Regions from separate parts of the Homo sapiens genome. Here region 2 is linked to region 1. The links come from fine-mapping of genetic effects on gene expression. Tissue or cell type: blood mononuclear cells. Region 1 holds a variant in brackets; the other region holds the start of a gene. All regions are shown on one strand. Distances are between the middles of the regions.

Region 1 (2,758 bases):
TAGCTAAAACTATAGACACACACCACCACACCCAGCTATTATTATTACTTTTATTATGGTTTTTTTTTTTTTTTTTTGAGAGACGAAGTCCCATTATGTTGCTTAGGCTTGTCTTGAACTCCTGGGCTCAAGCAATCCTCCCACGTTGTCCTCCCAAGGTGCTGGGATTATAGGCATGAGTCACCATTCCCGGCCCATATCTTGATTGTGGTGGGGCTTGCGTGAACTGTCAAATTTGGCAAAACTCAACTGTATTCTGAAAAAGAGCGAATTTTACTATGGGTTGAGCATCTCAAATCCAAACATCCAAAATCCGAAACTTTTTGAGCATCAAGTTGTCTTTTTATGAATATTGTACTTTTTTTGTACTTTTGTAACTTTTATGGATTTTGACAAATGTATAATGTACACATATGGATTTTGATAAATGTGTAACATACACATATACATTATACATTTGTCAAAATCCATAAACAATACAACACCAGCAGCAAACCTTAATGCAAACTATGGTCCTTGGGTGGTACTGAGGTGTCAATATTGGTTCATCAACTGTAATAAATGTACCACTCTGGTGCAGGATGTTGAAAGTGGGGGAGGCTGGAGGGAGAACACAGGAATATGGGAACTTGATACATTCTTTTTTTTTTTTTTTTTTTTTTTTTTTAGAAGCAGGGTCTTGCTCTGTGACCCTGTGACCCAAGCTGCCATGCAGTGGCATAATCATGGCTCACTGTAGCCTCAAACTCCTGGGCTCATGCGATCCTCCCACCTCAGCCTCCCAAGTAGCTAGGACTACAGGTGCAAGCCACCCCCTACCCCAGCTAATTTGTTTTATTTTTTGTAGAGACAGGGTCTTGCAATGGTGTCCAGGCTGGTCTCAAACTCCTGGGCTCAAGCAATCCTTCCACCTCAGCCTCCCAAAGTGCTGGGATTACAGGCATAAACCACTGTGCCCAGCCAGAACTCTGTACTTTCTGCTCAATTTTGCTGTGAACCTAAAACTGCTCTAAAATATAGTCTATTTTTTTAATCCCATTTACTCATTACCAACTCCCAAATTCCTTTACTTTTTTTCTTTTTTTTTTTGAAACAGGGTCTTGCTCTGTTACCCAAGCACAATCATACAGTATAGCAGCACAATCATAGCTCACTGCAGCCTTGACCTCCCTAGCTCAAGTGATCCTCCTACCTCAGCCTCCCCAGTAGCTGGGACCACAAGCTCACACCACCATGCCCAGCTAGGTTTCTTGGGGTTTTTGTGTATATATGTGTTGTAAGACAGAGTCTCACTATGTTGCACAGGTTGGTCTCGATCTTGGGATTCAAGCGATCTTCCGTCTTGGCCTCCCAAAGTCCTGGGATTACAGG[C/T]GTGAGCCACCGCACTCAGCCCAACTCCCAGATGTCTATCTCTAACCCAGGGCTCACACTTGAACATCTGACTCTGTTATTCAACTATCCATTCAACATCTCCACTTAGTCATCTCAAAGGAATCTCATATATTTAACATGCCCAAAACCAAACTGCTTATCATCTCCCTAGAACCTAGTTCTACTGAAGTCTACCCCATTTCAGCATGTGGTAATTCCATCTACTGGTACCGAGAGAAAAAGCCCTTGGAGTCATCCTTGACTCTTCTCTATCTCTTACATGTCGTCAGCAAATCTGTCAGCTGTACCTTCAAAAATTATACAGACGCTGATCACTTCTCATCAACTCCCCCACTGCTTTTTAGTTCAAACAACTATCATCTTTCACATGGACTAATACAAAAGATCCTTGCTCTTCTTGTTTCTGCCCATGGCTGCCTACAGCATATTCTACACACAATAACCACAGCAACTTTATTTTTTTGAGACAGGGTCTGGCTCTGTCACCTGGGATGGAGTGAAGTGGCACCATCTCAGCTCACTGCAACCTCTGCCCCTCAGGTTCAAGTGATTCTCCCACTTCAACCTCCCAAGTAGCTGGGACCACGGGTACACACCACCATGCCTGGCTTTTTTTTTTTTTTTTGTATTTTTGGTAGAGACAGCGTTTTGCTATATTGCCTAGGCTCACAGCCCCTTTTTTTTTTTTGACAGAGTTTCGCTCTTGTTGCCTAGACTGGAATGCAGTGGCACAATCTCAGCTCACTGCATCCTCCACCTCCCGGGTTCAAGCAATTCTCCTGCCTCAGCTTCCTGAGTAACTGGGATTACAGGCGCCCACCAACACTCCAGGCTAATTTTTTGTATTTTTAGTACATGTCAGCCAGGCTGGTCTCAAACTCCTGGCCTCAAATGATCCACCCACCTCGGCCTCCCAAACTGCTGGGATTACAGGTGCGAGCCACTGCACCTGGCCCACAGCCACTTTTAATACTTGAAATCAGATAACATTGATTCCCTGTTTAAGACCTTTCAATGACTTACTATCACATTTAGAATAAAGTCCAAACTCCTTATTATGGCCGATCTGGCCCCTGCTGACCTTTCTGGGCTCACCTCCTACCTCTGGCCTCTCACTCTCTACCCTCCCAGCCACATGTTCCTACCTATTATTGCTTGAATGCCCTGCTTGCTCCTACGCCAGGGCTTCTGCCTTGGCTGCCTCTGTCTGCAACCCTCTCTCCTCTGGATACTAACATGACTCACTCCCTCACTTACTTTAGGACTCTATTTAAATGTCTGTCAGAGAGATCTCCTCTGTTCACCCTCTATATAAAAAAAGCAAAACACATACACACATAGAGGCACTCTACCCACTTGAAAGTAC
Region 2 (2,611 bases), 160 kb after region 1:
ACGCCCAGCTAATGTTTGTATTTTTAGTAGAGACGAGGTTTCGCCATGTTGGCCATGCTGGTCTTGAACCCCTGACCTCAGGTAATCCGCCCGCCTCGGCTTCCCAAAATGCTGGGATTACAGGCGTGAGCCACTGCGCCCTGCCCTAGATTAAAACTCTTTTTTTGTTTTTTTTTCTGAGACGAAGTTTCGCTTTTGTCATCCAGGGTGGAGTGCAATGGCGCCATCTGGGCTCACTGCAACCTCCACCTCCCGGGTTCAAGCGATTCTCCTGCCTCAGCCTCCCAAGTAGCTGGGACCACAAGCACCGCCACCACACCCAGCTAGTTTTTGTATTTTTAGTAGAGGCTGGGTTTTGCCTTGTTGGCCAGACCGGTCTCGAACTCCTGACCTCATGATCCGCCCTTCTCGGACTCCCAAAGTGCTGGGATTATAGGCGTGAGCCACCGCGCTCGGCCTGTATAAACTTTTTTTTTTTTTTTTTTTTTTTTTGAGATGGAGTCTTGCTCTTTCGCCCAGGCCGGAGTGCAGTGGCGCAATCTCGGCTCACTGCAAGCTCCGCCTCCCAGGTTCACGCTATTCTCCTGCCTCAGCCTCCCGAGTAGCTGGGACTACAGGTGCCCGCCACCACGCCCGGCTAATTTTTTGTATTTTTTAGAAGAGACGGGGTTTCACCGTGTTAGCCAGGATGGTCTCGATCTCCCGACCTCGTGATCCGCCCGCCTCGGCCTCCCAAAGTGCTGGGATTACAGGCGTGAGCCACCGCGCCCGGCCCCCGGCCTGTATAAACTCTTAAATGGGAAAAAAGAATCAGGTTTTGGCTGTTTTGTCAGGATATAATAACTAGCCACCACGTTGTGGTCCATTTAATCCTCAAAAAACTTAGAGGTAAGCACAATTCGCTCCTTCCGCGGAAACTGGAAGACGTGAAGCAATTTGCACAGTCTTGCAGTGAAGGGCCAAGCTAGACACTCATACCCAGCCCACCCGCCAGGGCCACTAGCCCAAGGTCGGTCCTGTGCGCCAACAGTCGCAAGCAGGGACTGAATATCCCCCTCTTAGCACAAAACCCAGTAACTTCCGGGAGATCGCCCGAGACCGTCAGCGCGCTTGCGCGGCCCCTTGACGTCAACCACGCCGTTCCTCCCCCTTCTGGAACGCGGAGCCGCTGAGCGGGCCGACGGCCATTTTGTGAAGCGGCGAAGGAGGTGGTGGCTGCGTTGGGCTCCGGGAAGCCGTTCGGGCTGGGGCTGTCGGCCGCGGGGCGGAGGCACTCGCGCGGGGGGTAATTCGGGGTCTGGGTTCTGGTGCCGCGCAGCTTTCCCCGGTAAGACTCCCGCAGCCCCTGAACGGGTGGGGCTGTGCGGGGCTCGTGGTGCCCCTTGGTGGCCCGGGGCGGGGCCTTCGGAGGCCTTCGAGCCCGCGGCAACTAGCGCCCCACACAAAGGGTCGAGGCAGGGCTGCAGGGGGAGTGGGATGCCACTTAGGCCTCTGAGATCTGAGAGGATGCAAGGAGGACGCAAGAGGATGAGCCTGCGTACCGAAGTGGGGACGAGGCCATAGCGAGGACTCCCCCGTGGTCTGAGAGGGGGCAGGCCAGAGCTGGCTGGCTCAGCGGCCTGCGAGCTAACGGGGACTGCAGTAAAAACACGCCTACATCCCGAGTACGGAGGATTTCTTGTCTCCCCCAGTGAAGCAGAGGTTATAACTACATCTCTGTGCCTGGAGGTGGGGAGATAATCGTAGTGAGGACACTCCTTCAACCCGAAATGGAAAGGAGGCCTTTGTGGCCTACCAGCAAAAGGGGACCCAGGTCACACCTGTGGGGAGGAAGCTGTAGTCGGTACACTCCTGTGAGTTCAGAAAGGAAGTGTCACAACCGGCCGCCTTCGTGGCCTGAAGGTGGAGGGGTTTGCAGTGAAATGCCTCCGAGGTCCATTGCTGGGGAGGGGCTTTACTCGAGGGTGTAGCAGTTTTGAGAAGCCGGCGTCTGAAGCTAGGAGGTGAGGGGGTGGGGTGAGTACGCCTCCTGAGGCTCTGAGAATTGTAGTAAGATGCCAGGCCTTTGGTCCCCCAGTAGGGAAGGGGCTGCTGTGAGCAGCACATTTACGGCTCCCTCGGGAGAGGATCCTGTGGCATTTCAGGAGGACGAGATCCAGTGGGCTGCGGAGGGTGGGTGCTTTTGATGGAGAGTTAATTGAGTTTCTCTGAAGCTTGGCTGCATTAGTTTGCAGCCACGTGAATTGGGTGGTGGGAGGGACTTTGAGGATCTACAGGTTAGTGACGGGGTTGGACGCCAGTGCAGCAGGCTTAGCTGCTAGGTTGTAAACGTACGGGCTTTTTGTGTGCCTCCAACGTGTGCTTTATAGTGACAAATCTGAGGGGCTCTTGTGAGGGTTACTCAGTATTAAGTGCTAAACATTTACTCATCTGCGTGGTGTCATGCTGAGAATTGCAGACTTTAAGAGATTTCTGGGCCCTAAAACCCTCCTTGGCTCCAGGATTCTCAGAGATAACCTAATATAAATTGAAGAAGTTGGTAGGGACCGTTTTATATTATTCAATAATAGAGTCAGTATAACCCACTGGAAAAAAGTGTGATGGCAACTGA

What was found. PIP is the estimated chance that this variant, and not a neighbour inherited with it, causes the effect.
Region 2: it holds the start of CPNE1, and the variant in region 1 is fine-mapped to the expression of CPNE1 in blood mononuclear cells (TOPMed, PIP 0.95).

What each region holds. Positions count from the first base shown.
Region 1 is chr20:35,820,756-35,823,513 of GRCh38, reverse strand. All of the region lies in intron 2 of PHF20 (PHD finger protein 20), which reads right to left. Among named protein-coding and RNA genes, the nearest start is that of PHF20, 50 kb to the right of the region's middle. The variant C/T (reference allele first, on the strand shown) is at 1,372.
Region 2 is chr20:35,663,476-35,666,086 of GRCh38, reverse strand. It overlaps CPNE1 (copine 1), which reads left to right and starts at 1,187. Exons shown (of 16, transcript NM_152925.3): 1 at 1,187-1,327. It overlaps RBM12 (RNA binding motif protein 12), which reads left to right and starts at 1,187. Exons shown (of 3, transcript NM_006047.6): 1 at 1,187-1,327. RefSeq lists enhancers at 1,219-1,268, 850-1,354, 1,539-1,648, 1,969-2,018, 1,859-2,364 and 1 more and a silencer at 1,326-1,620.